Homo sapiens: one gene and its partner. The protein of the gene in region 2 purifies or fractionates together with the protein of the main gene of each other region. This does not show direct contact. Each region holds a gene or a part of one and is shown on either strand. Other genes may lie near its edges.

Region 1 (3,658 bases), on a different chromosome or scaffold from region 2:
CAGATTTTTTTTTTTCAGTTTGTGGCTTATCTTTCCATTCTAATAGTCTTCCATATGCAGAAGTTCTTAATTTTGATGAAGTCCAGTTGATCTTTTTTTCCTGTTATGGATTGTGCTTTAGATGTCATATCTAAGAAATCTTTGCCTAATATGAAGCCACAAAGGTTTTCTCCTATCCTTTCTTCTAGAAGTTTCATAGTTTTAGGTTTTACATTTAGGTCTGTGACTCTTTTCAGGTTAATTTTTATTATAGGGTGTGAGGCCTGGATTAAGGTTTACTTGTTCCAGCACTATTTGTTGAAAAGGCGATAGCCTTTTCTGTGAACACCAAAAATTCCTTTGTCCTATGAACACCAAAAATTTGAGACAGGTCTCAGTTAATTTAGAAAGTTTATTTTGCCAAGATTGAGGACACACCTGTGACACAGCCTTAGGAAGTTCTGATGACATGTGCCCAAGGTGGTCGGGGCACAGCTTGGTTTTATACATTTTAGGGAGACACGAGACATCAATCAATATGTAAGAAATACATTAGTTCCATCCAGAAAGGTGGAGACAGCTCAAAGCAAGGCCCCCCCATTGGGGACTTCCAGGTCACATGTAGGTGAGAGAGGGATGGTTGCATTCTTTGGAGTTTCTGATAAGTTTTTCCAGAAGAGGCAATCAGAATATGCATCTATCTCTGTGAGCTGAGAGATGACTTTGAATAGAATGGGAGGCAGATTTGCCCTCAGCGGGGTCCCCAGCTTGAAGAGGCCCAAGATATTTCCCTTTCACAGTCCATTGAATTGCTTTTGTGCCTTTGTTGAAAACCAGTTAACTATATGTGTCATGGAAGGGTTTAAGGTAAGTAAACAAATTGCCTTTTTTTTTTTTTTTTTTTTTTTTTTTTTAAAGAGACGAGGTCTTGTGTTGCCTAGGCTGGTCTCAAACTCCTGAGCTCAAGTGGTCCTCCTTCCTTGGCCTCCCAAAGTACTGGGATTACAGGTATAAGCCACTGTGCCCAGCCATAAATTGCCTGGCTCAGCCTTCCGAGTAGCTGGGACTACAGGCGCCCACCACCACGCCCGGCTACTTTTTTGTATTTTTAGTAGAGACGGGGTTTCATCATGTTAGCCAGGATGGTCTCGATCTCCTGACCTCGTGATCTGCCCGCCTCAGCCTCCCAAAGTGCTGGGATTACAGGTGTGAGCCACCGCGCCCGGCCGTAACCACAGGTCTATAAATTACCATTTTTAAGATTACTCTGTCTGCTATGTGGAGATAATAGATTGAAGTAGGTATGGATAGTGATAGTGAAAATGGGAACTGGTATTTATTGTGTATTTTATGGGAACTAGTACTTACTGTGTGTTTACTATGTACCAAGCACTGTCCCGCACCTTTTACATAGATTATCTTGTTGAATCCTCAGAATGGCTCAATGAGGTACACGCTGTTTTTTCACTTTACTGATGGGGTAGTGAGGCACACAATAACCTGCACAAGGTCATTCCATTGGTAATTAGAGATGGGAATCAAACTCAGCCAGTCTGACTCTTGAGCTGCTCTTCTCAACTGGGCTTCTGTGGGAGACTTAATACCTAATGCCCTAAGGCCTCCATTGTCTATAATGAATTCTTCTTTTTCCCCTGCATCTGTAACAGTACTAGCTATGTATCATTCTTGGGAGAACTGAGTAAAGAGCCACACAAATCATTTTCTGTAGGTTTAGAACTCTTGCAGAGCCCTGCTTCAGAAAGGCTACTCAGTGCTCTTGCTCATAATCACTGGAGTAACTGCAGGGTTCTGAAGAGATTAAGGTGGGTCAGATTCGGAGGATGGCAGCAGGAACTGAGGGAAATGGACAGACTGGATGGTCGTGGAGACACACAACTTGAGAGAGAGGTCAGGAATGACCTCCAGACCTCTGCCGCAAGCAGCTGGTTGAATAGTGTTACCATTTACTAAGTTGAGAAACAACTGGGAAACTATAAGTTTTTATGGTGGGATGGGATGGGGCTTTCATTTTATGATGATAGCTTTCATTTTCTATATATTGATTGAGCTTGGGTAGCTTGAGATGCATAAGTGATATAACTTGGTTGTAGTTCATGATACATGGTAGCCATGCAGGGTTGTAGTCAGACTCTCCCATCTTTTGTGGGCAGCGCGGGGCGGGGTGGGGGTGTGCATAGAACCAGCTAGAGTGTAATTTTGAATGGAGGACACTTACCTAAGACTCAGCACTCCCTGATAGTACTGTCTGCAATGATGGAAAATGTTCTGTATCTGTGCTGACCAGTGCTGTAGCCACTAGCTACATGTGGCTGTTTCGATTTTGACTAATTAAAATTGAATATTCAAATGTAACCATTCTAGGAAATATCTGTACCTTTGAAAGTATTAATATTTCTTAGTACTTTGGCAAGACATGGTCTGCTGTATTTCATATGGTGTTTTACTATGTAACTTATTTACTTTGTACCTAATCTAATTGTTTCACATTACCTATTTTTTTTCTTCTTTCCAGCTGTTAGGCAATTTTCTTCAGTGGTATGGCATTTTCTCAAATAAAACTCTGCAAGAGTTATCAATAGATGGTTTATTAAATCGATATATTCTCATGGCTTTTCAGAATTCAGAATATGGAGATGACAGCATCAAAAAAGCCCAAAATGTGAGTTAAATGCATAGTACAGTTTTTAAAGCATATAATTTAAAATGAATTAAGTTTTTGTTTGTTTGAAGAGGGATTTGAGAATTTTATGAAACCCCTTTGATTACTGGACTTGCATGTAAGGTTGACAGTTTGCCTACCCAGGTAGTTCCAACCCCCTACAGCATTTTTTACATAAAAATGCATACTGTTATATATATATATATCCATCTATATCCATATTTTTATAGATATTAGTGAAAGTTTTGATATTTTTATAGGTATAAATAAAAGTTTTGATTTCAGAATAATAACCTTATTATCTTAACCTCAGTCTGGGCCAACTCGACTTCCCTTAGCAGCATGCATGGATGTCTATTCGTGGAATTATTGCAGGGGATGGGGGTGCTGTAATTTCATTTTTATACCACTCATTTTTACATCAAAAGCTGCTGGAAAAGGAAATTCAGTATATTTAGGCCATCCTAGAAGACTGGAAAATGAAGCAGTTGGTTGTCAGTTTTATGTTACTAATTTACTCAAATATTGGACAGATTATCTTTTGCTTTGAGTGCCTAACCCATTGGTTGGGGTAAAAATTTAGGTATATTGGTTTAGTTAATGTAGGAAGTCAGATTTAAAAGAATATTTCTTCAGAGTAATTGCTGTAGCTCAGAAGCACGTCTTCTGGTGAAATACATTTATACCCATTAACTAGACTTTGCTTTTAATACTTTAATTTATTCTGTCTTAACTATTTTATTTTACGTCTTTCTTCTCCACAGGTAATCAATTGTTTCCCCAAACAATGGTTCATGAATCTGAAAGGAGAAAGGACTATTTCTCAGTTAGAAAACTTTTGCCGATACCTTGTACACTTAGCGGATACAATTTATAGAAATAGTATCGGGTGTTCTGATGTGGAAAAAAGAAATGCAAGGTAATTTTGTAATTAATGAAATGGTAATCTAGAGTTGTTTAGTTGCCAGATTTAGTATTAAAATGTTTTAAGTAGAGATG
Region 2 (2,756 bases):
AAAAGAAATAGTATGCAGCTGTACAGACATACTACAGGAAAAAAAGACAAGGGTTGTGGGAAGGATGTAATTATGGTAAGCATAGCTGGAGCAAAGACTGTATAACCAACTCTGTTTTTTCTTTCCTTTTTTTTTTTTAAATTCTTTTTAAATTGATACAGGGTCCCGCTATGTTACCCAGTCTAGTCTTGAACTCCTGGGCTCAGGCAGTCCTCCTGTTTGGCCTCCCAAAGTGCTAGCCACTGCGCCTGGCTCCAACTCTTCTTTTTCTTGGAAAGGGAGCATCTAATTCAGCAGTCCCAACCTTTTTGCTGCCAGGGACTGGTTTTGTGGAAGTCAATTTTCCATAGACCTGGGGTCAGGAAAATGGTTTTTGGATGATTCAAGCACATTACATTTATTGTACACTTTATATTTTACAATGTAATAATAGAAATAAATAATTATACAACTCAACATAATGTAGAATCAGTGGGAGCCCTGAGCTTGTTTTCCTGCAGCTAGACAGTCTCATCTAGGGGTGATGGGAGACAGCGACAGATCATCAGGTATTAGATTATCATAAGGAGAGTGCAACCTAGATCCCTTGCTTGTGCAGTTTGCAGTAGGGTTTGTGCTATGAGAAGCTAATGCCGCTGCTGATCTGATGGGAGGCAGAACTCAGGCGGTAATGCAAGCAATGGGGAGTGGCTGTAAATACAGATGAAACTTCACTGGCTTGCCTGCTGCTCACTTCCTGCTGTCTGTGTGGCCCAGTTCCTAACAAGACATAGACCAGTACCGGCCTGGGGGTTTGGGACCCCTGATATAATTGTATCTTAAAGACTGTGGTAGAACCTAGCAGGCAAGAACTCTTAAGTTATGACATCAAAGCATTAAATTATTTGGATTAAGACTGGACAGAAAGCAATGCCTCGTAGTATCTGCAAAAGGGCAAAAGAGGAACTTAATGTAGGTATGAGAGATGCCAAAAATGTTTATAACAAGCAAGATAAAAATGGAGATTCATTATGGACAATTCATTGATAATAGAGAACTTATTTATACCTAACCTTGTTCCCGAAAGGTTATAAAATGTCTTACAGATGAATGTACAATAAAATATCGAATGTAATTAAAGATACATAGATAAGGACATCCATAGAGAAAATGAGAAAGGACTAGTAGTGTAGTTCACAAAATGTACCATTAGTTCTTGCATATTTTTTTAAGAACTTGACTTAAGTTTTCTAGCAGTCATCCTAAAGAGGAAAGATAATAATTTTTACATTGGCTATTAAAATTCAAACAAATAGTCACCGAGGATCTAAGATCAGAGAGAAGTTTATTGAAGGTCTTCATAAATGACATTATACTGTCCTCAGTAACTTCCTCGCAGTAAATATGTCAACAAGTTCTTAGGGCTTTTAACCATAAGGCTGATGGTTTAACTCAGAGACAATTCATTAAAAGTGATTCTATAGGAGTCCAAAATGATAGATTCCAGGTATTCAGACGGATAAAAAGTCATTGATAATCTCATGATATTTTTGTGAGTATGATGAGTAATAGGGTTTGGATAGGTTCTTGTTTGATTTTTATCTTTCCTAAACCTATTTTTCTGATTAGACCATCTTCAGTTTCTGAATTATAAAATCTGTAGGAGTTTTAAATAACAAAACCTTCAAGATAGGGTAGGGAATATTTTCATTTTATTGCCACTGACATCCTTTTGGGGGAAGTTAAGAATTCTTTTAAAAAATCCCCAATTGTATCAGAGTTATCAGACCAGTTCTCTTTGTCATATGAAGATTATTAAAACTCTTCCTTTTACCTGTTAATTACAAAATGAAGACACATATTAACATGCCTATTTTTTCTCTTAACAGCATATCTTTCTGAAGCCATGAAGCTGACACAGTCAGAGCAGGTGAGACATATTCCCAATATTTGCGACAAGGGTTAGAAAGGTTTTCTTGTGGAGGCTTGAATTGTGTGTAAAGCAAAGCATTGTGTCCCTCTCAAAATGCTATAGTCAAAAATATATAAAATGGGCAAGGGAAGAGCACTTCACAACGGAAATTAAAACTAAATGAACTGCAGTCGATGCCCCAGACATGGAATGCAGAAACTTCTTTTTTTCTAGTGGTTACTCACAGATCTCAGATTGCCAGCCAGATGTACCTTTTAGAGAGCCCTCTTCGGACCATTCCTAATCATTAGCTCTTATTTGATCATTAGCTTACAGTCAGTAAACAGGCCTGGCCAAGAGGAAACTAGTTGGACCACCCTTTGCTTGTCAAAGATAATTTAAATCTGACCAGTCTCCCACTTGTCTTTGCTTGAATTCTTAAGCAGTTCAGGCACTTTTAAATTTGTTTCACCAATTGCTTTAAATTGTCTTCTGTGTTTGGGGAGGCCCTGCCAAGTGTTTCAAGATACATTTATTCATAAGACTGGGCATGGTGGCCCATGCCTGTAATCCCAGCACTTTGGGAGGCCAAGGCAGGGGGATCACTTGAGCCCAGGAGTTCGAGACCAGCCTTGGCAACACAGTGAGACCCCATCTCTACAAAAACTTAAAAAATTAGCTGGGCGTGGTGGCACATGCCTGTAGTTCTAGCTACTTGGGAGGTTGAGGTGAGAGGATCACTGAACACCTGAGTCCAAGGCTGCAGTGAGCTATGACTGCGCCATTGCACTTCAGCCTCAGCAACAGGGACCCTGTCTCTAAAATAAATATATATAAAATATCTTTTTAAAAACTTTTTGTTATA

The links. The genes of interacting proteins can lie anywhere in the genome.
Region 1: the proteins of NRBF2 (region 2) and PAXBP1 purify together in Homo sapiens (affinity purification with mass spectrometry; one large-scale study listed by BioGRID and IntAct). This does not show direct contact.

The regions. Positions count from the first base shown.
Region 1 is NC_000021.9:32,737,174-32,740,831, reverse strand, and holds part of PAXBP1 (PAX3- and PAX7-binding protein 1), read left to right. Parts: intron 1-2,490; exon of another isoform or gene 2,491-2,512; coding exon 2,513-2,659; intron 2,660-3,423; coding exon 3,424-3,578; intron 3,579-3,658. UniProt on the Homo sapiens protein: Adapter protein linking the transcription factors PAX3 and PAX7 to the histone methylation machinery and involved in myogenesis.
Region 2 is NC_000010.11:63,150,282-63,153,037, forward strand, and holds part of NRBF2 (nuclear receptor-binding factor 2), read left to right. Parts: exon of another isoform or gene 1-75; intron 76-1,868; coding exon 1,869-1,909; intron 1,910-2,756. UniProt on the Homo sapiens protein: May modulate transcriptional activation by target nuclear receptors. Can act as transcriptional activator (in vitro). Involved in starvation-induced autophagy probably by its association with PI3K complex I (PI3KC3-C1).